3 separate regions of the Homo sapiens genome follow, and regions 1 and 2 are each linked to region 3. The links come from fine-mapping of genetic effects on gene expression. A gene starts in region 3. Each other region holds a variant in brackets. All regions are shown on one strand. Distances are from middle to middle.

The links. PIP is the estimated chance that this variant, and not a neighbour inherited with it, causes the effect. A credible set is the group of variants that fine-mapping cannot tell apart.
Region 1: its variant is the best candidate, but not a certain one, in a credible set for the expression of SAMD4B in visceral fat (GTEx, PIP 0.54).
Region 2: its variant is the best candidate, but not a certain one, in a credible set for the expression of SAMD4B in whole blood (INTERVAL, PIP 0.63).

What each region holds. Positions count from the first base shown.
Region 1 is chr19:39,358,290-39,366,463 of GRCh38, forward strand. All of the region lies in intron 3 of SAMD4B (sterile alpha motif domain containing 4B), which reads left to right. Among named protein-coding and RNA genes, the nearest start is that of SAMD4B, 20 kb to the left of the region's middle. The variant T/C (reference allele first, on the strand shown) is at 4,598.
Region 2 is chr19:39,374,203-39,382,376 of GRCh38, forward strand. It overlaps SAMD4B (sterile alpha motif domain containing 4B), which reads left to right. Exons shown (of 14, transcript NM_001384574.2): 5 at 1,448-1,687; 6 at 2,235-2,344; 7 at 2,503-2,589; 8 at 3,283-3,622; 9 at 4,302-4,387; 10 at 5,764-5,882; 11 at 6,385-6,583; 12 at 6,788-6,911. Among named protein-coding and RNA genes, the nearest start is that of PAF1, 13 kb to the right of the region's middle. The variant A/G (reference allele first, on the strand shown) is at 4,160.
Region 3 is chr19:39,338,879-39,347,052 of GRCh38, forward strand. SAMD4B (sterile alpha motif domain containing 4B) reads left to right here and starts at 3,543. Exons shown (of 14, transcript NM_001384574.2): 1 at 3,543-3,698. RefSeq lists a silencer at 3,232-3,661.

The DNA of each region.
Region 1 (8,174 bases), 19 kb after region 3:
AGCAGTGTTCTTACGTGGCTCTCAAGTCAGACTGTCTAAGTTTAAATCCCAGTTCTGTTACTTGCCATATAACCAAGTAACTTAACCTCTCTGTGCCTCACTTTCCTGCGCGCCACCACGCCTGGCTAATTTTTGTATGTTTAGTAGAGACGGGGCTTCACCATGTTGGTGAGTCTGGTCTCAAACTCCTGACCTCATGATCTGCCCACCTCAGCCTCCCAAAGTGCTGGGATTACAGGCATGAGCCACCGCACCCAGCCAGTTTCCTCATCTTAAATTCAACATGATATCCTGAGAAGTATGTAACCTCAGTAAAAAAAAAAAAAGAAAAGGAAAGAAAAAAGATGATAATTATATCTACCTTCTAGGGTAGTTGTGAGGATTCAGTGAATTAACACGTGTGGCTTCCTACATGCCTGACATGTAGTAAACAATAACTGTCAGTTGTTAATTGTCAATAACTCACTTAGTCCTCACAACAACCCCATGAGGTAGGTCCTGTCATTAGCCCCATTTTACAAGTCAGGAAACAAGCATGGACTGCTAGGATTGGGTTTTGGGGAGCCACACAGCTGCCTGGCCTCCCTCATCTCCCCAGGCCCACCTGCCTTAGCAACAGTCACCCTTATTTTACTGAGTTTTTGTGTGGAAGTCACAGAAGCAGCATGATTGTAGCGGGAGACGGTTACTCAGGCCAGGGGTCACATCAGCTTAGTTCCTAGTCTGGCAGTAAGTTCTTAGTCCTAGACAAAGAGCAATAAGAACCCAGCTCAGCTGCAGCAGGCTCGGAGCTCAGCCATTTCTCACCCCTGCCACACTCCCCACCACTCTAACACTAAAGGCAGGAGTTCTGTTTGTGATATGACTCTGCCTTTATAGTGGGGGCTCCTGTGGGGCAGGCCAGTGTCTTACACAGCTTCGTCACACATCCCCACTGTCCCATCCTGAGCAGGCAGTTGGATTACCTCTGGGTGCCACTCTTAGCTGTATATCAGAATCACCAGTAGTACTTAGTAATTTCAGTGCTTTTAGTTTTTGCTTTTGTTTTCAGAACTTGCAGTAAAATCAGATAGTACAAAAGGTGAAAGTGAGGTTTTTCTTCCAGACTTCACGTTCTCATTTCCTTATGTTTTATGAGATAAATTCCCTGCATATATGAATGCATATATATTTTCCTTCCAACTTTGTCATTGTTTTGTCTTAATACATATGGCCAAACATGCATATTAACCAGTTTGGTTTTTTCACTTACCAATATGATTTGAAGATCATTCCGTATTCAGCACATACGTCTGTTTCTCGTTAAGTATTTATTTACACCTCACAACAACTCTGTACTCCCCTGTTACTCCCCCATTTTACAGAGGAGACTGTAGGTCTGGAGATATTAAATGACTTGCTGTGGGTCACACAATTGATAAGAGGTAGAGTTCAAATTTGACTTCAGAGTTCTTTAGAGCTCTTGACCAATAGACTCTTCCACATGGTACATGTGGTCTTCATCTTACAAACAGTGATGTAATGAGTACCCTTTAAACATCTCTAGGATGAACTCCTCAGATTCTGCAGAACTGCTAGTTTAAAGGTGTATGCAATTAAAATATTTGTTCTCCAGGCCAGGCGCGGTGGCTCAAGCCTGTAATCCCAGCACTTTGGGAGGCCGAGGCAGGCGGATCACGAGGTCAGGAGATCGAGACCATCCTGGCTAACACGGTGAAACCCCGTCTCTACTAAAAATACAAAAAAATTAGCCGGGCGTCGTGGCGGGTGCCTGTAGTCCTAGCTACTCGGGAGGCTGAGGCAGGAGAATGGTGTCAACCCGGGAGGCGGAGCTTGCAGTGAGCCAAGATTGTACCACTGCACTCCAGCCTGGGCGACAGAGCAAGACTCCGTCTCAAAAAAAAAAAAATAAAAAAATAAAATAAAATATTTGTTCTCACCACATTGCCCTTGAAAGACATGCTGCATTTTATACAAATAACCTGAGGCCCGTTCCCAGATGGTTTGCAGTGGGATATTGGTGGTAATGCCTAGCCAGGGTTGAGAAGTGCTGTGAAATGAATTGAATGATGAATGAATATATGAATCAAGGTTTTTATCCATAGCCCCATATCAGATGGTGAGAATAACAAGCTGGTACTTAAATGGGTGGAGAGGAAAGGAAAACTTAGAATGAGGGAAGGCCATGGTGTGTTCCAGAGTCAGCAGGAAGCCTGCCAGGACTGGAGCAAAGCATGACTTGAAAGAGAAGTGATCACAGAGGTAAATTCTGGTAGAGTCTTGAATGCCTGTTTTCTAGTAGACCTGAGGGCTCTAAGACTAAGAAGCAGGTGCCTCCTGTTTCACTCCTACCCTCAAGTAGAACCCCACCTGCCTTATTTGTAAAGGAAGGTGCTACTTTCTGGGCCTGGAGACCTGCCTCAAAGAAGGAGCTGTTCATACTCTTGTTTCTCCTCTGGTTATTATGGCCTTCCCATTCCCTGGTGTTTCTCAAACTTGCATCATCATCAGAATCACTGGGGTTAGGTGACTGTTACAATCCAGATTTCTGCCCCCCATAGACCTACTAAATCAGAATCCTGAGGGTATGGGCCTGGGAACGAGTACCCAGGTTCTTCTGCTCACCAGGCAGTGTGAGAGGTGATGCCCTGCTGGATGATTCATTTGTTGTGAGACATGAGACACCCAAGAGTTGTAGATCCAGCTCTCCACTAACACCTCTTGTGACCTGGGTCAGTCCTGCCTGACCCTCTCGGGCCTCAGGATCCCCATTTGGACAGTGAGGGGGTTGTTCTGGTACTTTCCAGGTACTTCTTGGGCTCTGAAATAATGTGCCAAAGAAGACAGAGCCACAGCCAAGCATACTACTTTCTTTTGGGAGAGGCCCAGCACATTATTCTAGGGCAAGAGTTCTTAATATTTAGCGGGATGGACCAGTTAGAAAATCTTCCCCTCCTCCCCACCCTCCCCAAAAAGATGCACACCTACTCCACAAACCAACTCTTGAGTTCAGTTGGTTCACTAGTCCCCAGTTAAGAGTTCCCTGGCCGGGCGCCATGGCTCACACCTGTAATCCCAGCACTTTGGGAGGCCGAGGCAGGCGGATCATGAGGTCAGGAGATTGAGACCATCCTGGCTAAAATGGTGAAACCCCGTCTCTACTAAAAATACAAAAAATTAGCCAGACGTGGTAGTGGGTACCTGTAGTCCCAGCTACTTGGGAGGCTGAGGCAGGAGAATGGTGTGAACCCAGGAGGCGGAGTTTGCAGTGAGCCGAGATTGCGCCACTGTACTCCAGCCTGGGCAACAGAGTGAGACTCCATCTAAAAAAAAAAGAGTTGCCTGTCTTCCCGGCCGGGCGCGGTGGCTCACGCCTGTAATCCCAGCACTTTCGGAGGCCGAGGTGGGCGGATCACGAGGTCAGGAGATGGAGACCATCCTGGCTAACACGGTGAAACCCCATCTCTACTAAAAATACAAAAAAATTAACCGGACATGGTGGTGGGCGCCTGTAGTCCCAGCTACTCAGGAGGCTGAGGCAGGAGAATGGCGTGAACCCAGGAGGCACAGGAGCTTGCAATGATCCGAGATCGCACCACTGCACTCCAGCCTGGGCGACAGAGCCAGACTCCGTCTCAAAGAAAAAAAAAAGTTGCCTGTCTCCAAGCCCTTCTTTAGCTTGGTCCCTTCAAACCTGGAGAGCTGAACAGTGAGGTAGATCCCCTGCTTTTTTGTGGGTTGTATCTCCATGTCCCACCGAACCAACCTTAGTACTTCCTCCAGTTCTCCAGGGAGACCTTGGGTGTGGGTCAGAGCTGCCCAGTTGTCTGCTTCCTGCTCAGATAGATCAGGTAGCACAGAGCTGACCTAGGTGAATATGTCCCTAGCTTTGTGTTAGAATCCCCCAGGGCCTTTCTAAAAATAATGTGAAGCCCAGGTCCTATCCCTGGAGATTTAAAGCTCCCTGGTTGACTCTTGGGTGCACCCAGTGGAGAACCACTTGTCTTGATGCTGACGCTGATTTTGGGTAGGCCCGGGAAGCTGGTGAGGATACTGTTGTGTGACCTACTAGAAGTGGGGAGTCGGGGCTTATAGCTGTGGAAAGCCTGGCCTAGGTCATCGCTTCCTCTCAGGCAGCTGGGAAGGTATAGGGAAGTCCTCCAGCACAGGCAGCCAGCATCAGTTTCATGGAAGTAGGACATGAGGCGCAACACCTAGAAACAGAAAAGCAATATTCCAAGGGTCTCTGGAACAGGGAAGAAGAGGTCCCAGGTTACCCCTTGTTGTAATCCCTGTTTGTTCTCCAGGTGCTGTCTTCCCTGCCTCTTTGGAGCTAGAACAATAACCCTGGTCCTCTCCTTTCCTCTGATGCTGACTTGGACCAGAAGGCTGTTCCTATGGACAGGAGGAAGGAGACTAGGGGGGTCAGGGGAGCTGAATTCCACTTCCCTCCACTGTCCTGTAGCTTCCTGGGAGACATTTCCTGCATTTTCTTCCCACCTCCTATTCTGAGTCAGTCCCCATATCTAGCAGGTTTAAACTCCTCCCTCTCTGGCTCATTCAGTCTGGGTGGGGAAACTGAGGTCAGGAGGGGCAA[T/C]GGCAAGTGAGTCATCAGAGCTCAGCCCTGTCCTCCACCCTCCACTTTCAGGCTCTGCTTGACAGTTCATCAAACAAAAATGTGAGCCCCCTGCCCTCCCCTGTGTCCATGTGAGCAGGGGTGAGGCAGAGAAGGTCATGTTTAGAGCCAAACCCTAGCCCCTCTGACTGGTGCCTGAGGCTACTCCAATTGTTGCACCAGGCCAGTACATAAAAATGGGTTTGCTCTTAGAGCAGTCTCGATTGGTGCCTGTAATTTGCCAGGACCCAGGGTCATGACCTACTTAGCTCTAGTCACCTGGCCAGCTCTGCCCTGCTGCCACTATAGCCAGGGAGGACATTTATACGCACAGCATTCCTCAACCTCTCCATGTTTGCAGAGTCCAAGTTTGCAGCTTGGTGAGAAGCAGCCGTTGGTGTCTTGGCATTCCCCAGCCCCTTCCCCCATCTGCCCACCTCCAGAATTTCATCATTGCTTGTTGTACTTCTAGCTCCAAGGAATCAGAGATGTGTCTGTTTTTGGTAAATAACTGTATGAAATTCCCCACCCCTGTCGGGAATCTTAAGGGGAAGGCCCAGATGTGCTTTTGTACATGAACTGTTCCCACCAGCCCTGAAACAGCATGGGCTCTAGATTCAACGAGGAGCAACAACAATAATAGTTAAAATGTACTTGAGCACTTACCACATGCCAGACGCTTTGCATGATTGTCTCATTGACTCTTTACAACAATCCTGTGAGGTAGAGGCCTTACAGTCCCCATTTACAGAAGAGACCAAGGATCAGAGAGGTTAAAGGACTGGCCCACAATGATATTGAGTTAGGTCATGGAGGCAGAGCTAGATTTTGAATCCAGCAAGTTTGCCTGTTGAACTTGTGCTCTTACTTAGTATACTCTGCTAGGACCTGAGACAGAGTACACCACTACCTTCCAGGGGACCATCTGGGTTCAATTGTGCAGGTATTCGTTGGGCCTCTGCTGTGCCTCCACTCTGGGCCAGGCTTTTTCTGATCTGGGCAGGAAACTAGAAGTTCCATCCCCACCCATTATTTACAGCCCCAGCTGGGCTCACCCCAAGGGGCCTGAGGCTGCACAAATTACTTGGGCCAGTTCCAGTGCTCACTGATGCTTCTCAGTCATGGGAGGCCCGCCCTCCCCACCACCACCACACAGACACATGAACACACATTTCCCCAGAATCAGCCTCCATTTGTCCAAAACCACTCTCCCCTTTCTCGGCAGCAGAACAAGGTCCTGCATTGAGCCCAACCCTTGGGGCTGTTCTGTCATGTCCCCTGGCAGTACCAGAGAAGCTGTGTCCCTTAGCCCTGGGGTCCTGGCAGTACTCTGGAGTGGGGAAAGGACTAGACAAGGCTTCTCTCTGTCCCAGATGCCTCTGGCTATGCTGCAAGGCCTAAACAACAGCGATTGAGAATGTCAGGGTAGGGCTGGAGGGGCAGGCTGACTCGACTACTGGAGAAGAGAGGAAAACACCCGTCACTGAGCCACAGACTGAATGTTTACTATGAGTACACTCTGTCAGATGCTTTTCATGCATCATCTCCCTACATCTTCTCAGCAGCTTTATAATCCTTACTTTACAGAGGAGGAAGCATACTGCCCAGGCCACTGTGTGTTTTTGACTGGGGTGCATATCCTTGACTTATTTTTATTTTTTTTTATTTTCATTCTTGACTTTCTGTCCCTAATGGGAATCACTGTCTTTCTTCTTTCTCATCAAGAACTGAAAACTACAGGACTAAGTTATCAAACAGGGTACCACAGAGTTCTTATCGTTTGATCCAGTGCCAGGTGGAGTTGGGAGGGCAGGAAAGACAAAAGTTCTGTGACTTCAGTGAGGCCTTTTCTGCCTTGGAAAATGATCTTTAGATGTGGAGATGGCCTGAAGGACAGCTTCATAATCTTGGCAGTCGGTTCAAGTGAAGACAGACAAGGGAATGAGGTTTCCTAGCTTTGAGTGGCAGATGCTGAAGGGGATCTGGAAATCCAGGGAAGAAGAGAGACTTGGGATTGGAGAGATAAAAGGTTGTGGGTAAAAAGTTCCCCCCTGGCTGGGCGCAGTGGCTCACACCTGGAATCCCAGCACTTTGGGAGGCTGAGGCAAGTGGATCACGAGGTCAGGAGATCGAGACCATCCTGGCTAACACGGTGAAACCCCATCTCTACTAAAAATACAAAAAAAAATAAATTAGCCGGGTGTGGTGGCGGGCGTGTGTAGTCCCAGCTACTCAGGAGGCTGAGGCAGGAGAATGGTGTGAACCCAGGAGGCAGAGCTTGCAGTGAGCCGAGATCGTGCCACCGCACTCCAGCCTGGGTGACAGAGCGAGACTCCGTAAAAAAAAAAAAAAAAAAAAGTTCCTCCCTGCCGGACACCATGGCTCACACCTGCAATCCCAGCACTTTGGGAGGCCGAGGCAGGTGGATCACCTGAGTTTAGAAGCTTGATACTAGCATGGCCAATATGGCAAAAGCCCGTCTCTACTCAAAATATAAAAATTAGCCAGGTGTGGTGGCGTGCGCCTGTAATCCCAGCTACTGGTGGGGGCTGAGGCAGGAGAATTGCTTGAATCCAGGAGGTGGAGGTTGCAGTGAACCGAGATCATGCCACTGCACTCCAACTTGAACAACAGAGCAAGCCTCCATGTCAAAAAAAAAAAATGGAGGCACACAGAGCCTGGATTCAGATCTCAGCTGTGTCGCTTAATGGGCTCTGTCACTTAGGGTGTGTGACCTCACCTTCCCAAATCTGTTTTCTCACCTGCAAGATGAGCACACCAAAACAGGATTAAAACAGGGATGAAAAGCAATCATTTTTAGCATAGTGTCTGGCACATAGTAAATGCTCAATAAACAGTATCCTTCATTCTGAATGAAAGTGCCATATGTTATTGCTATTGTCAGTAGTAGCAACAGCAATAGTGGTATTGGTTCTACTATTAATTTTAACCAATGCTGTAGACATAGTATGAGTTGATGACTTTGAATGAATGGATTTAACAGGTGTTCCCTTGGCTGGGCACAGTGGCTCATGCCTGTAATCTTAGCACTTTGGGAGGCTGAGGTGGGCAAGTCATTTGAGAGCAGGAATTTGAGACTAGCTTGGCCAACATAGTGAAAAAAGTAACAGGCAGGACACGGTGGCTAACGCCTATAATCCCAGCACTTTGGGAGGAAAGGTAGGTGGATCACCTGAGGTCAGGAGTTCCAGACCAGTCTGGGCAACATGGTTAAACGCCCCCTCCACTAAAAATATAAAAATTAGCCGGGTGTCATGGTATGTGGCTGTAATCGCAGCTACTCAGGAGACTGAGGCAGGAGAATCGCTTGAACCCCAGAGGCAGAGGTTCCAGTGAGCCGAGATCGTGCCACTGCACTCCAGCCTGGGCAACAAAGTGAGACTCCATCAAAAAAAAATAGCCAGGCATGGTGGTGCACGCCTGTAATCCCAGCTACTTGGGAGGCCGAGGCAGGAGAATCACTTTAACCCGGAGGCGGAGGTTGCAGTGAGCTGAGATCACTGCACTCCAGCCTGGGCAATAGAGCGAGACTCCATCT
Region 2 (8,174 bases), 35 kb after region 3:
GGAGGTTGCAGTGAGCCAAGATTGCACCACCGCACTCGGCGACAGAGCAAAACTCCATCTCAAAAAAAAAAATCAAGTTGGATTCCTTTGCCAACCTCAGACTTGGGATGGACAGAGGGTATGGAGCATCCTTCAGAAGAGGACCTGGGATCACCCTGAGTCACCAGGCCTCATGAGTGGCCAGTTTGGGCTCACTGCAGAAAAAAAATGGGAGGTAGTGAGGCCCCATAACAGGGTTGTTGAGGAAGCAGCTTACGTACTTCATTCATTACAAGATATAATGATGTTTAAGATGGGACAGGTTTCTGCTGTCACAGGTCTTCTATTCTAGCAGGGGGTGTAGTTAATAAGTAAACAGGCTGGGCGCAGTGGCTCACGCCTGTAATCCCAGCACTTTAGGAGGCTGAGGTGGGCGGATCACGAGGTCAGGAGATTGAGACCATCCTGGCCAATGTGGTGAAACCCCGCCTCTACTAAAATACAAAAAAATTAGCTGAGCATGGTGGCAGGCATCTGTAGTCCCAGCTACTCGGGAGGCTGAGGCAGGGGAATTGCTTGAACCCAGGAGGCAGAGGTTGCAGTGAGCCCAGATCGTGCCACTGCACTCTGGCCTAGTGACAGAGCAAGACTCCATCTCAAAAAAGTAAATAAATTTTTAAAAAAATAAACAAATAACTTGATAATTTCAGGTTGTGATGGGTGCTGTAAGAAAGACAAGACAGTAATGTGATAGAGTGACGGATTGGGGCAGCAGAGGTGGGCAGTGACTTCAGATTAAGGGTTCAGGGTAGGCCTCAGAGGAGGCGACACTTGAGATGAGACTTGAGGGAGCCAACCGCTGAGATCAAGAAGGTAGGAAGAAAGAGCAAGTCCAGAAGTCCTGAGGCTGGAACAACCTTGAGTGTTTCAGGAACAAAGGGGAGTTTGGGAGGAGGCAAAGGCTAGAGAGGCATGAACCAAGTGGTGGGTTGTGGGAGAGGAACAGGGGCCAGGTCCTGCATGGCCTTTTAGGCATGTGGAAGCATTTGTATTTTGTTCCCACTATGAAAGGAAGTCACAGGGATTTGAGCAGGAGTCAGGCTCGGTCAGATTTGCATTTTTAGAAGGACCTTTATGGCTGTTGTGAGGGGCGTGGACTGTAGGAGGCAAGAGTGAAGGCAGGAAACCAATGAGGAGGCTGTGGCAGTAATTCCTGCCAGGGGTGCTGGTGGCTTGAGCCAGCGGAACTGGAGAAATTCAGGAAAGTGGCTGACAGCTTGCTGATGGGTTGGGTGTTGGAGGTAAGAGAATGAGGTATATCTGGTAGGCAGTTACCCTTGGACCCCAGGTCCCTTCCTCTTGGCAGGTTATGGGGCCAAACTGCCATCCTGGCACTGACGGCAGGGGGATGGTCTCCTGTGGTTGGGTCCCCAGGTCTAATATTTTGCTTTTCTCCCACTCTGGCCAGGTCTCCCCTGCCAAATCCACCCTAGCCCACTGAAGCGCTCCATGTCACTCATCCCTACAAGCCCCCAGGTCCCTGGTGAGTGGCCGAGTCCAGAGGAGCTTGGGGCCCGGGCTGCTTTTACCACGCCCGATCACGCACCTCTCTCGCCCCAGAGCAGCGTGGCCTCCTCTGGCAGTGAGCAGACAGAGGAGCAGGGCTCCAGCCGGAACACCTTCCAGGAGGATGGCAGTGGCATGAAAGGTACATTGGGGACAGCAGCACCAGGACCCTTTTCCAGGGGCTTCTGCAGAGCTTAGAGGACAGAAAGGAGCTTGTAGCTGACACCTGCTTACCCCTCTGAGGAGGGGACATGTCTGAGGGGAGTAGATAGTCCCTGCTTTTAGGGCTCAGGACTAAGCAGAGAGACCCCACATCTACCCTAACAAGTTCTAGTCTGACTGGGAAGGAGCCCCCTGTCTTCACACACCCCAGTCTGACAAGGAAGCCAGGACACAGCTAAGTGATGGAACAGAGGTTCCAGCAAGAGTTTTGGAGCAATCAGTGAGGTCATCCTGGTATACATCCAGCCTAGCAGCTTAGAAGGGTCAGATGTCCTTCCCAGGGAAGGCTGCCTGAGGGTCTGGCTAGGCAGATGAAGAAGGAGCTGATGGAACCTTAGCTCCCCCCAACCCCCTCCCAATTTTTTGCATCTTTTGAGGCTTCCTGTGGGTTTATCCCCACAACTTTTCCTTTACCCTGGTAATCTGGGCCAAACTCCTGACCTTTCACTCTCCCTCCTTTGCCAAAGATGTGCCCTCATGGCTCAAGAGCCTCCGTTTGCACAAGTATGCAGCCCTCTTCTCACAGATGAGCTACGAGGAGATGATGACACTGACTGAGCAGCACCTGGAGTCTCAGGTGAAGCCAAGGGGACCATCAGGGAGGTGCTGGGGGCAGCGCTAGTTTGGCATCCTTGCAGCCCAAGCCTCCTCTGTCTCCTTGATCTCTATTTGGGTACCCCCAAATATCTCAGCCTCACATCTCTAGCTTCCTGTCCCCTTCTGCCCTTATCACAGAACGTCACCAAAGGTGCCCGCCACAAGATAGCCCTGAGCATCCAGAAGCTGCGTGAGAGACAGAGCGTCCTCAAGTCCCTAGAGAAGGTGAGGACCTGGTTTCTGCATCTTCAAGGCCAGCCAGCCACTTGGTGGTACCAGTAGACCAAAGGCCCTGAGTTGGCCTCCAGACTCCTCGGATGTGGCCTCCAAAATTCCCAGCCCTAGGGACCCAGACTTCAGGGACCACATGCAAGCCGGCATCAAAAGGCTCACTTGCTGGTGGCTAAGAGTCTCCCCTCCCTGTCTTTCCTGGTTTGTGGTTCCAGGATCTCTGTCTTTTGACTCTACACCTTCTCTCCCCTTTTGCTTTTCCATTTCTTACTGGTCTTTCTGGTAGAGCAGAGTGTCTCTGTCTGTACAATCTCTCTTTCCATTTGATTGTTTCTAAACTCATTTTCCTTCCACATCTGATTCCGTTTCCTTGCCACTGCCTTCTGTTTGTATTTTTCCCTGCTCAGTGTCTAGGTCTGAATCTCTGATTCTATCCTTGTTGGGTCCTTGAGACTCCAACATTAGACTGGCTTTTCGTGAGTTCTGTGGGACTTCATCTTAATGGGAAAGAGGAAATGTGTACCTATATGTTTGTGGGCTTGCAGTACCCTTACATGCCTTCTCTATGTGCTGGAACCCAGGGTCCTACCCAGCCTTCTGCAAGCCCTGTCTGACTCTCTGTGTAGATACTCTCTGTCCCTCATTGTAGGGTCTGCATGTGACCCCAGCCTGTGTCCTCCCATCCAGGATGTGCTGGAAGGCGGGAACCTACGAAACGCTCTGCAGGAGCTGCAGCAGATCATCATCACTCCCATCAAGGCCTACAGTGTCCTCCAGGCCACCGTGGCTGCCGCCACCACCACCCCTACTGCCAAGGATGGGGCCCCGGGGGAACCACCGCTGCCAGGTGCTGAGCCTCCCCTAGCCCACCCCGGCACAGACAAAGGCACCGAGGCCAAGGACCCTCCAGCTGTGGAGAACTACCCACCTCCACCAGCTCCAGCTCCCACTGATGGCAGTGAGCCTGCCCCGGCTCCCGTCGCCGACGGAGACATCCCCAGCCAGTTTACACGGGTGATGGGCAAAGGTGAGACCAGCCACAGCCTAGCAGGAAATCCTGAGGCAGAAAGCCAAGTGAACCCAAGCACCAGGGATCAAATCCAAGTTCGATGGTGGGAGCAGGGCTTTGTAAAGCCTACTGGAGACTGGAACACTACAGAGAGTAGCCAAGACAGGGTGACAAGGCCCCTTGCCCTTGGGCACGTCTGGGCTGATGGTGGATAACAGCCCTTCCCCTCAAAGCGTCTCCAGGCTGAGCAGAAATGGGGCAGTGGGTCAGAAGAAATTCCATGTAGTAAAGGGTGAGCAGTTGAGGGGAGTCCATTGATTTCTCTCAGAGGGGACCAAAGTCCAGGGGATGGGGATGGTGAAATTTATCACAGCTTCAGCCTTTCCTAAAGCAGCATGATACAGCAGACTTTACACTTGGATCCAGATCAGTCTAGATCTGGATCTGGACCTGAGGCAAGTGACTCAACTCTGAGCTTTAGGTTTCTAAGGCTAAAAATGTGTGTAGTGACAAGATTGTGTCAGGCACTATGTTGTATATCCTCATGATAACCCA[A/G]ATACCATGGCTAGCACTTAATAGTTGATATTCATCCAGCCTGAGTCTCCTGTTCCTTCTTGTGCACGAGCCAGCTGGAGGCTGGAACATGGCAGAGGGCATACTAGGGGTTAACCTCCTGCCCTTTCTCATGTCCCCCCAGTGTGCACCCAACTGCTGGTGTCCCGACCAGACGAGGAGAACATCACCAGTTACCTCCAGCTCATCGAAAAGTGCCTGACTCATGAGGTAAGGCCTTCCCTAGCATACTCAAAAAGGGAAAGGCGGCCAGGCGTGGTGGTTCACGCCTGTAGTCCCAGCACTTCGGCCACCGAGGCGGGCGGATCATGAGGTCAGGAGATCGAGACCATCCTGGCTAACACAGTGAAACCCAGTCTTTACTAAAAATACAAAAAATTAGCCGGGCGTGGTGGCAGGTGCCTGCAGTCCCAGCTACGCGGGAGGCTGAGGCAGAATGGCGTGAACCCGGCAGGTGGAGCTTGTGGTGAGCCAAGATCGCGCCACTGCACTCCAGCCTGGACGACAGAGTGAGGGAAAGCCTGCCCCATCTTTCTCAAGACCATTGTGTTGTATGTGGCCCATAGGGCCTTACCTGACGTGGCACATGCCAGCCCTTCCAGTCTTGTATCTTACCAGTGTTGGCTTTAGAGGCTTCTTCTCAGAACCCTTGTACACACTCTTCCTCTCTCTCTCTCTTTTTTTTTTTTTTAATAGAGACGAGGTCTCACACTGTTGCCCTGGCTGGTTTTGAACTGACCTCAAGTGATCCTTCCACCTCAGCCTCCCAAAGTGCTGAGATTACAGGCGTGACGATTTTCTTTTTTAGAGATGGAGTATTGCTTTATTGCCTAGGCTGATCTCGAACTCCTGGCCTCAAGCGATCCCCTGCCCTGGCCTCCCAAAGTACTGGGATTATAGGCATGAGCAACCATGCCCAGCCCGTACATACTCTTTTGTCAGCAACAGTACCCTTTCCTCCTCCTCACCCCTCAGCTGTCAGTTCAAACATTTATACCTCAGGGACACCTTTACCAACCCCTCATTTTTATTTAAGTTTCTTTTGCTTCCTGTTCTTCTCCCTCAGGGAGGGATAATTTGTCACAGTTATCATCATGTATGTATCTTTCCCTCACAACCAGACTGTAAGCTCTCTGGGCATGGTCACCTCTGCATCCCAGAATTGCCTGGCACAGGCACAGAGTAGATGAGCAATGAATCTTTTTTTTGGAAACAGAGTCTCGCTCTGTTGCCCAGGCTGGAGTGCAATGGCGCAGTCTCGGCTCACTGCAACCTCCGCCTCCCAGGTTCAAGTGATTCTCCTGCCTCAGCCTCCCAAGTATCTGGGATTACAGACACACACTACCATGCCTGGATAATTTTTGTACTTTTAGTAGAGGTGGGGTTTCACCATGTTGTCCAGGCTGGTCTCCAACTCCTGACCTCAAGTGATCCACCCGCCTCAGCCTCCCAAAGTGCTGGGATTACAGCTTGAGCCACCACGCCCGGCCAGGCAATAAATATTTGAACAAATGAATGGAAGACTGGAAGGGAGGTCTGAAGGAAGCATCACCCTCTCTGCTTCACCGGTGTCCTGCCAATTCTAGGCTTTCACGGAGACGCAGAAGAAACGGCTGCTATCCTGGAAACAGCAAGTGCTGAAGCTCCTCCGGACATTCCCGCGCAAAGCCGCACTAGAGATGCAGAACTACCGGCAGCAGAAAGGGTAGGCGGGTGGCCAGGTTACAGGGACCTGCCCTCCATAGGCCTTTGCTGGTTAGCAGATCGTGCTTAGAGGGGTGATTGTGTTCTGGGCTGAGAATCTAGTTTTATTCAGTCACTGGGCGACTTTCCCAGAAGAAAATTTCCACTAGAATAGGATGCTGAGCTGAAAAACAACACATGTCCCATGAGCAGGCCCCTCATATGTACCTTGCTCCTCGCCTGTATGCAGAGGGCCTGGAAGTCCCTCCTTAGACCAGACAAATAACAGAAATGTCTCCTTTGAGAATTGAAGATTGGAGAACTGTTTTGAGTGGACAGTGAAGAAACCCTTGTACATGTCCCATCTCCTTCCAGGGGGTACCCTTGGGGCAGATGAGGACAGAATGTGTGATGGAGGTTTATGTTCTCTCCTACAACTTGGGGTTGTTGGGGAAGGTGAGGAAGGGGTGGACAGATAGGCCCCATCTATGTAAATTAACACCCTGCCTTCTGCTCTCTCATAGCTGGGCATTCGGCTCCAACTCGCTCCCCATAGCTGGCTCTGTGGGGATGGGAGTGGCCCGGCGTACCCAGCGGCAGTTCCCAATGCCTCCCCGGGCCCTCCCACCCGGCCGGATGGGCCTCCTGAGCCCCTCGGGCATTGGGGGTGTCTCCCCTCGACATGCCCTCACCAGCCCCAGCCTTGGAGGCCAGGGCCGACAGGTAAGCTGGCTGGAAGCAGGGGCCTGGCCTCCTGGGGTTGGGGTGGCAGTACCTGGGATGTCTATTTGCCTGTATACTCTGTGTCTGGACCCAGCTTAGAGGTGGCGGGGGTGGGAGTGGGAGAAGGCCTGTACCACCTCCACCACTCTTGGGTCTGGGCCTCTTCTGCACTCACTACTTTCTCTCTTCCTGGGACCTGTGTAGAACCTGTGGTTTGCCAACCCTGGAGGCAGCAACAGCATGCCCAGTCAGAGCCGCAGCTCTGTGCAGCGCACCCACTCGCTCCCGGTCCACTCGTCACCCCAGGCCATTCTCATGTTCCCTCCAGGTGAGGTGCCCCACCCTTGGGACTCTGCCTGGCCAACATCCTCAGCTGACCTTTCTTTTTTCTCCTGGGTCTCATGTCCACTGTTCTTCTAGACTGCATTGGCACCTCTCCCCATACCTCACACCACTCTGCACCCATCTCCCCCAATTGTGGGGGGTTGTTTTCCTCCTCTGCTTCAATTTTATCTCTCAGGTCTTGCCCCCACCCCTCTGAGTCATCATCTCTCACCCCTTACTCCTACCCCATCTCATGTTTCCCACCCTATGTCATAATCTTAGTGTCTGTGTTGCTCTTTGTCATCATCTCTTTCTTTACAGGATCATTGAATACTCAACTTAGAAGGGGTTGAGGGGATGGGACAGTTAAAGTGTGAGATTTCTGTGGAGGGGAGTCCTGCCCATCAGCCTACTGGGATTCTTTCAGATGCCAGGTGACCACACAGGAACCAGTGGACTTCACCTCTTAGAACAGGTGTTTGAAGTGAGAGGGCTGTTTTGACCTCTGCTTACAGACCATCCTGGAGATGGGAGAGCAGAAGTTGGGCCAAGTGCGGGCACAGTAACTCACACCTGTAATTTCAGCACTTTTGGGAAGCTGAGGCAAGTAGATCGGTTTGAGACCAGTCTGGACAACATGGCGAAACCCCATCTGTACAAAAAAATACAGAAATTATCTGGGCATGGTGGCACACACCCGTAGTCCCAGCTACTCGGGAGGGTGAGGCAGGAGGATCGCTTGAGCCCAGGAGGTCAAGGCTGTAGTGAGCAGAGATTGTGCCACTGCACTGCAGCCAGGGCGACAGTGAGACCCCATCTCAAAAAGATGTTGGGACAAGTGGGCAAAAGGAAGATTAGAGACTTGCTAACCGCAGGTCCCTGCCCTGCTCAACAAGTGAGGGGTTGACTCCTCCACACGGTGCTGGCCACTGGGGCTGCAGAGACAGATAAGGCTCGTCTGGAATGGGCTGACTCTAGAGAGAGCATGGATTTGCAGAATTCATGTCATAAACTGCCAAGTCAGTCAGGAGTCTTACTTGATGAGGTTGTGTAGACAGCCATCTGTTGAGGCCGTGGGAACCCATCCATCATGTTCATCCTAGCACAGGGCTTGACACACAGTAGGCATCTGTAAATGATGTTAAACAAGCAGGTGGATGAACCGCAGGAATGAACAAGAACCATTCTCTTTACCAGCATGCTGTGTCCCAGGCTTTGTCAGACAGCTCTCCTGCACTGATTGACTCCTCCCAACTGTATGTGTAAG
Region 3 (8,174 bases):
TGCGCCACCACAACCAGCTAATTTTTGTATTTCTAGTAGAGACGGGGTTTCACCATGTTGGTCAGGCTAGTCTCGAACTCCTGACCTCGTGATCAGCCCACCTCAGCTTCCCAAAGTGCTGGGATTACAGGTGTGAGCCACCGCGCCTAGCCATATTTTTGTATTTTTAGTAGAGACAGGGTTTTACCATGTTGGCCAGGCTGGTCTCAAACCCTCCCATGGGCCAGACACAGTGGCTCATGCCTGTAATCCCAGCACTTTGGGAGGCCAAGGCAGGAGAATTGCTTGAGACCAGGAGTTCAAGACCAGCCTGGGCAACATAGCAAGACCTTGTCTCTACAAAAAAATTTTAAAAGTAGCCGGGCATGGTGGCATGTGTCTGTAATCCCAGGTACCAGCTACTTGGGAGGCTGAGGTTGGGAGGATCACTTGAGCCCAGGAGTTTGAGGCTGCAGTGAGCTAGGATCACACCACTGCACTCCAGCCCAGGTGACAGAGTAAGATCCTATCTCTAAAAACCAAACAGCAGGCCAGGCGCAGTGGCTCACGCCTGTAATCCCAACACTTTGGGAGGCCGAGGCAGGCAGATCACTTGAGTCCAGGAGTTCAAGACCAGCCTGGGCAACATGGTGAAACCCCATCTCTACTAAAAATACAAAACTTAGCCAGGTTTGATGGCATACGGCTGTAGTTCCAGCTACTCCAGAGGCTGAGGCAGGAGAATCACTTGAACCCAGGAGGCAGGGGTTGCAGTGAGCCGAGGTTGCAGTGAGCCGCGATCGCACCACTACAATCCAGTCTGGGCAACAGAGTGAGACCCTGCCCCCCCCCCCCACACACACACACACACACACACACACACACACCAACAATGACTAAAATACTAAGTTATCTGTCACCACCCCTACCCCATTGCCTCTTGGACCTTGTCCTTCACTGCCCTCTTTTGCTCACTCCACTCCAGCAATGCTGGCCCCTTTGTGGTTCTGTGAATGATCCTACTACATGGCCTTTGCACTTGCTGTTTTCTCTTTCTGGAACCCACTTTCTCCTTCATTCCTTCAGATTTCTGTTTCAGTCTCACCTAATGAAAGAGGCCTTTCCCCATGTAAATTAATTCTGGCTGCATTACTCCATTCCCTTAGCTGCTTTCTTGTTATTTATTTGTTTATTTATTTAGAGACATAGTCTCGCTCTGTCACCTGGGCTAGAGTGCAATGGCAAATCTCGGCTTATTGCAACCTCCGACTCCTGGGTTCAAGTGATTCTCCTGCCTCACCCTCCTGAGTAGCTGGAACTACAGGCACGCATCACTATGCCCAGTTAATTTTTGGCATTTTTAGTAGAGACAGGGTTTTGCCACTTTGGCCAGGCTGGTCTCAAACTCCTGGCCTCAAGTGATCCACCAGCCTCAGCCTCCCAAAGTGCTGGGATTACAGGCATGAGTCACCATGCCCAGCCACTGCTTTCTTTTTCTCCTTGGTACTTATCACGAAGTTACACTGTATTTCCTTATTGTTTGTGTCCCCAAGAACTAGAATGTAAGTCTTTTTGTTTTTTTTTTGTTTTTTTTTTGAGACGGAGTTTCACTGTTGTTGCCCAGGCTGGAGTGCAATGGCACGATCTTGGCTCACTGCAACCTCCGCCACCCGGGTTCAAGCGATTCTCTTGCCTCAGCCTCCCAAGTAGCTGGGACTACAGGCATGTGCCACCACGCCCCGCTAATTTTGTATTTTTAGTAGAGATGGGATTTCACCATGTTGGTCAGGCTGGTCTCGAACACCTGCCTCGGCCTCCCAAAATGCTGGGATTACAGGTGTGAGCCACCGCGCTCATCCTATTGTTGTGTTTCTAGCACCTTAAGCAGAGCCTGGCACATATTAGATAGTCAAGAAATATTATTGAATGAATTAATGAACCAGCAGTTAATGAGCACAATAATTCTATGCAGTGTGAAGGCTGTTGCTTAAATGCAGGAGGTAGTGGATGGGGTTTGTGACATGGCCCCACCCTGGTGAAACAGCCTTTCCTCAAAGCGTCTATAATGCCACACTCTCCTGGTTTTCCTCTCTCTGGCTGCCTTTTGCAATATTCATCGACAGCGTCAATTCCTTTGCTCAAATCCTGCCTCTCTGTTTCAGGGTTCTGTTCAGTCCCTGTCTCCAGTGACCCTTCATACCCTCCCCGGGCTAGACCCCTAACTCCCACAGCCTCAATTACCATCTTTGACGATCCTTAAATCTTGGTCTCCAGCCTCAATTTCTCCCTTAAGCTCCAGACCCAGGGTTTGTGCACCTCCTGGACCTCGCTACTAGGCATCCACATTGGGCTTAGTATCTTCCCAACCTGCTTCTGGCGCCCAGTCTCCCGGCTAGAGGGGCCTGGTCCTAAACTTTTCTCCCCCTTCCACTCCATAGCCAGCCAGTGTCAGGGCCCGTTCGCTCTGCCTCCAGGGCGTCCCTCCCACCTGCACCTCCTTCCCTCCCCACAGTCCCTCCCTCGTGCAAACCCCCTCTTTCTTCCCCACCCCCTCCCCCAGCTGCCTCCCTGGACTCCCGATCCCGTTTCATTCCCTCCAATCCGCCCTCCATGTATAAGCCAGAGAGACATCTCTCCAAAACCCCAGACTCACCATGATCCTCCCCGGCTTGAAGCCCTTCACGGCTCCCTAGTGCCCTCGGGACAAGTCCAAACTCCCTCAAGTGGCCAAACAACTGGCCTCTGCTCGTTCCTCACCCCTCCCTGTCTTCAACTCGACCCTCCATCCCGACTGCCTCTCTAAGTGCCTGTAACAAGCCAGATCTCTGTCACCGAGAGCCTTCTGAACACAGGTCCCTCTGATTAGTTCACCCGGACCCAATACAGTTTGTGGAACGCACAGATCACAACCAAAGTCACAGCAACAACTCCCGTTTATTGACAGCCTCCTTGATCCTTAGCGCTTTCTGTGCATTCTCTTCCCACCCTAAAGGCTAGATCTCGCCTCGCCATTCCCATCGGAGAGAGCAAGCGGCAAGGCTGAGAACAGCGCGATGAGAAAGCCGAGCGCCCAGAAGCCCGAGTGCAGACGCCCACTGAGGACAGCCTTGGGTGAGGCGGGCCACCCAAGGGGCGGGGAAGAGGAGGCCTGGAACGCCTGAATCAGGAACTGTGACTTCGCTCGGGGCAGCTGGGGTGGACGCGCGCGAGCCTGCCCCCTGCGGGCCTGGAGGCCCAACCTCAGACTCCGCCGGGCCCGTTGCCCTGGGCAACGCCCCGCGCGCCCCGCCCCTTCCCCGCCCCCCAGCCCCAAACCCCAGGCCTGGCCGACTGCCCGTCACCCCCACGTCCGACCAATCCCGCCGAGGAGGGGGCGGGCCTCTTGGGCCCCGTTCCACCACCGTCGCTCCCCCCTCGCCGCGACCCCGCCTTACTCGGCTCACACCTCCCGCCCTTCGGGCTGCCCTCGCCGCCCGTTGGCTGGCGCGCCGTTCGTCACCCGGGCGTGAGCTAATGCCGGCGCGCGGCGGCCCCCGTCGGGGCGGGGCCAGGGGCGGTGACGCACGGCGCGGTGACGCAGCGCGACGGCGGCGGCGGCGGCGGCGGCGGTGGTCGGTGCGGGAGGAGGGAGGGGAGCTTGCGGGCCCGAGAGGGGGCGACGGCGGCGGCGGTGGCCTGAGGAGGCCCGAGCGGCGGCGGTGGCGGCGAAGGCCGAGGCGGTGAGTCTCGGGCCGGGCCGGCGCGGGGCGGCGGCGAGTCGGGGCGCGCGGGGCTCCCCTCAGGGCGACCCAGGCCGCGCGGGCGGCCCCGCCCCCTCAGGGACCCCGAACCGCGGGCGGCGGCGGCGGGCGGGTGCGGAACGCGGGCCTCGGGGGGCCGGGCCCCACGGGAGAAGCCCCGCGCCCGTCCCCAGTCTCCCTCCTGGGCCCTGGCCGAAGCTTCCCTCCGAAATCTTTCTCATGCCCTCGGGATTGCCGAGGGGCCGGGCCGGGGGCCTCTCCTCAGGACCCCCCGCACATCCCCCTCGGAGAGCCCCGGAAAGCCTGCCGATCCCCCGTGTGCGCCCTGAAAGGTCCCCGCAAAACCCACCCCTCCCGTGGAGTCGCCTCCTCGAGCCCTTCATGGGTCCCAGCAGCTTTCCTCGCAGACCCCCGCCCTTTGGCCCCGAAGCCCCCGTCCTCCTCCTGTCTCCAGAAATAGTCCTCGGAGGCCACTCCTCGTCCATTCCACAGCGTGGCTCTCATAGCTGCTCCAGGAGCCTCCCTCACGAGCCCTGCACACCTCCCCAAGGCTCCCTCCGGACCCCTGTCCATTCCAGAACTCTCCCCCGGAGCCCTGCCTCTCACAGCCCAACAGGCTCACCCGACTTCCCCCTCCCGGATCCTAAGAATTTTCCCTCCCACTTACCCCATTCCAGAAACCTCCTTGGAGATTTTCCGCTCATACCCCCTGCATTTCTGATTCCCCCTCCCAGAAGTCCTTCAGAATGCCCCCGACGGACCGTGATCATCTTCCCTGAAGATCTCCTTCCCATATCCCCAAAATAAATCTTCCTCACAGACTTTGTGAAATGCCCCCAGATCCCAAAAACTCACCTAGAAGACTCCATCCCCCTCCCCACCGTATTGCAACCATCTCTCATACACACTCCCCCTTCACGTATCCCTCTGGACCTTTCCACAGATCCCAAAAGTCTCCCCCAGAGGCCTCCTGTCTCCCCCTGGTCTCACCACCCTAAAATGCCCTAGAGATCACCCTCATGTAGCCCAGTGATCTTCACCGGGATCCCCTTCCCCACCCCCACTCATTCTAAAAATCTCCAGCAATTGCCTGAAATCTCCAGAGGACTCTCAGCATCATATTCCAAAAGCTTCTTCCAAAATCCCTTTTACATACTCCACATCTTTTCCAGTCCCCCACATCACACGCTCCAAAAATTGTTTAAGGATCCTGAAAACTTTCCTCATGGTTTTTCTCTCAGATCCCGTAGAACTCCCCTTCACTAACACCTCAGAATCCCCCCTTGCAGACCGGTTTTAGAGGAATTTTCTGAAGATCCTCCTCACAACCCCTGTAAGACCGTAAGATTCTCTTGGTGACCCCTCTGATATGCAGGTTTTCAGGACCCCCCCCCCCCACACACACACACAGCTTAGAGACCCCAGCGACCCCCTGGAGCCCTCCTGACGTATGTTCTTGAAATCCCTCCAAGACCTTCCTGACACCACCAGAACCCCTTGAATCAATACTTCTGCCTTACTAAGGGACTTTTCTAGAGATATCCCTCCCTGAACTTGCTCACACAGGTCCCCTAAATCCTCTAGAATCCCTTGAAGAAGACCCTCACACACACCTAATTTTCCCCCAAAATAACCCGAGCTCTTGCTCTGAGAAAGTCCTATAATTCTTTCTGAAAAACCCTCTCCTCTGACACTCTCTCAGAAGACCCCGCCTTCCCCATATACTCTTTTGGAGACTTTACTCAGCTTTCTCCTCAACTGAGATCTCTGAAGAGTTTTTCCTAAAAACATCCCTCTGTCATCCCACTCCAGGACCAGTCTCAGAAGACCACACCTTCCTCAGACACTTTTTAGAGAATTTTCTCCCAAATTGCCCTCCATCAGCCACCCACTCCCAGCGCTTCCTGAGACTTCCTCAGAACTTTCCCTCAGATTCCACTTCTGACATCCCCAAGAAACATTATTTAGGACCCTATCAGATTTACCCACTAACTTTAGAATTGCTATTTACACCCTCTCATTTCCCCATTCTCTTTCCTCTGAAGTCAACTCAGAGACCTTTCTCAGGGGGCCCCCTTTTCCCATTATCCCTTCAGAGGTCCCCAACATTCTCCAGACTCGTTGCCCAAGAGCCTCTATGTTTCCTTGTAAAGATTCTTGAGAGACACCTTTCCCCGCCCCCTTGAAATCCCAGTGCTCCGAGATCTTTCTTTCAGACCATTTTTCTTAGGTGCCATGCTCATAGACCCCTCTTCCCTTCAGAGATCAAGAGACCCTTAACACCCTCCTTAGAGACTTAGGATTCTCCCCATTTCCCTTTCAGAAGCCTTCTTCCTTCTCCCCTTTGAGGACCTCCTCACCAAATAATCCCTTCCCCTATAGCAGTGGTTCTCAGTGTGGTTCCTGGCCCAGCAGCAGCCACATTTGTTAGAAATACACATTCTTGAATCCCACTCAGATCTACTGAAACTGAAAACCTGGGAGCAGGGCCCAGCAATCAAGAGTTTTTAACAAACCCTCCTGGTCATTTTGATGCACACGCAAGTTTGAGAACCTGTGCCCTTTAGGAGGATTTCCTTTTCCTCACTAAAAGCCCCCTGAAAGATGCCTCAGGGTATGCCTCTGTGCCCTACTGCCCACTGCTGCTTTCCTGTTTCCTAGGAATCCCCTTTATGAAGTACCCATCCTCCAGAAAGATTTCTTACCTACCTTGAAAGGATCTTGGCTTCTCCACAAGGTTACTCCATCCTCTGAGCAGTTATTTCCGATTCTACTTTTGAATGGTTTCTTTTCAGATCTTCCTCAGTGCTTTCTCTTTCTGGCTACCCCTCCAGCCCACTACCAGCCTTTGGTGCTTCTTTAAATTGCTGCTTCTTTGAACACACATATCCATCTCTTCTTGTCCATCTGTTTCTTCACATAGGCACCCTCCCCTTGAGGCACCCTCAGGAGGTCTTTTCATTCTGTGTCTTACTGCCAAGACCCCTCCACCTCCATTGTACCTCTTAGAACACCACTCACCTTCAACCTTGTAGATTTTAATGTACTTGTCCACTCACCCTCACTGGACTAGGAACTCTGAAAGTACGGGATGTGTCTTGTTCTTCTCTGAATCCCACAAGGTGGGATCTACTCTTTGTAAGTTATTGGAAATCACTGGAGAATAAGCAGCTCTTCCTTCTGCATTTGGCCAGAAATCTCCAAGTTCCTCAGATCTCACTCCTCATTCAGGTTTAGTACACCTTCCCTGCCCCCTCCTCTCCTCTCACCTCCCTTTTTTTTCTCCACACAGCACCCTTTGCCTTTACTCCTGCCCTACTTGCTCCTGTCTTAGGGACTTTCTTTGTGCTGTTTCCTGATTCTGAGCTACCCCAAGTCCTTTGCCTGGTGACCTGCCTCACCCGTCCTGGTTGGCTTCTCTTAGCAGCCCCTCTCAGCTGCTAAGTCTGGAGCCTCCACAGAGCTCTTGGCATTTTTTCAAGGGATTCTGTTTCTAGGGCCCAGAAGGGGAAACAGAGACCCCAGGGTAAATATTGGGGCCTGCCTTCAGGGAGCTCACAATACCAGTAGGGGGCTTGGGCATGTACAGAGCAGAAAATGAGGTACAAATTATATGCTGTAGAAATTCAGCAGTGAGAGGGAGCCTTTTATTTGGAAAGACTTCACAGAAAAGGTGGTATTTGGGCTGGATAGTGTTCCATGGGAGTTGGGACAATGATGGTGCCCCCAGGCAGAGGAAACAGCTTAAGCAATGGGTCAAAGACAAAGCCTCCTCATCTCTCACCCATGGTATCTCTTCTCTTCACCCAAAAGATAGAGATGAAAGAAGACAGATTTCCTCCATTTGCATTGTATTTGCCAGCTGCACTTTAGTGACCTACAGAGTAATAATAATAATGACCACTGGTTTTTGAATGCTTTCTAACTGCCAGGCACTGTTTAAGTGCTTTACATGTATTCATAGGAGGTAGGAGTTTACCTACCCTATGAGGTAAGTAAACTACCATTATCCTCATTTTGCATATGATGAGATTAAGAACAGGTAGGACTAATAGAGGGTCTGTGGGCACTGTCCATTCCAAGATGGTAGTGCCTTGGGTCAAAAAGTTTGATTTTTAGTTAAGATAGGTTTGGCTGCAATGGGGCAGTAGTTGTTAGGTATGCAGACCCTGGGTCTGGACAGGATTTGTATCCCACATTACCACTCACCAGTTTTGTACCCTAGGACGAGTTACTTCCCTGGTCTTTTAGTTTCCACAGCTAAAAATATGAAGGAAATAATGATACTTTACTTCATAGAATTGTTACGAGGATTAAATAAGTTAATACATGTAAAGTACTTAGAACAATGTCTTGCCCATAATTGCAATGTTAGAAAAACAATAAAATAAAAAAAAAGCTCATATCAGCCAGAACTCTAAAAACATAAAGTGATAGAACCTTAGCTCAAAGTGG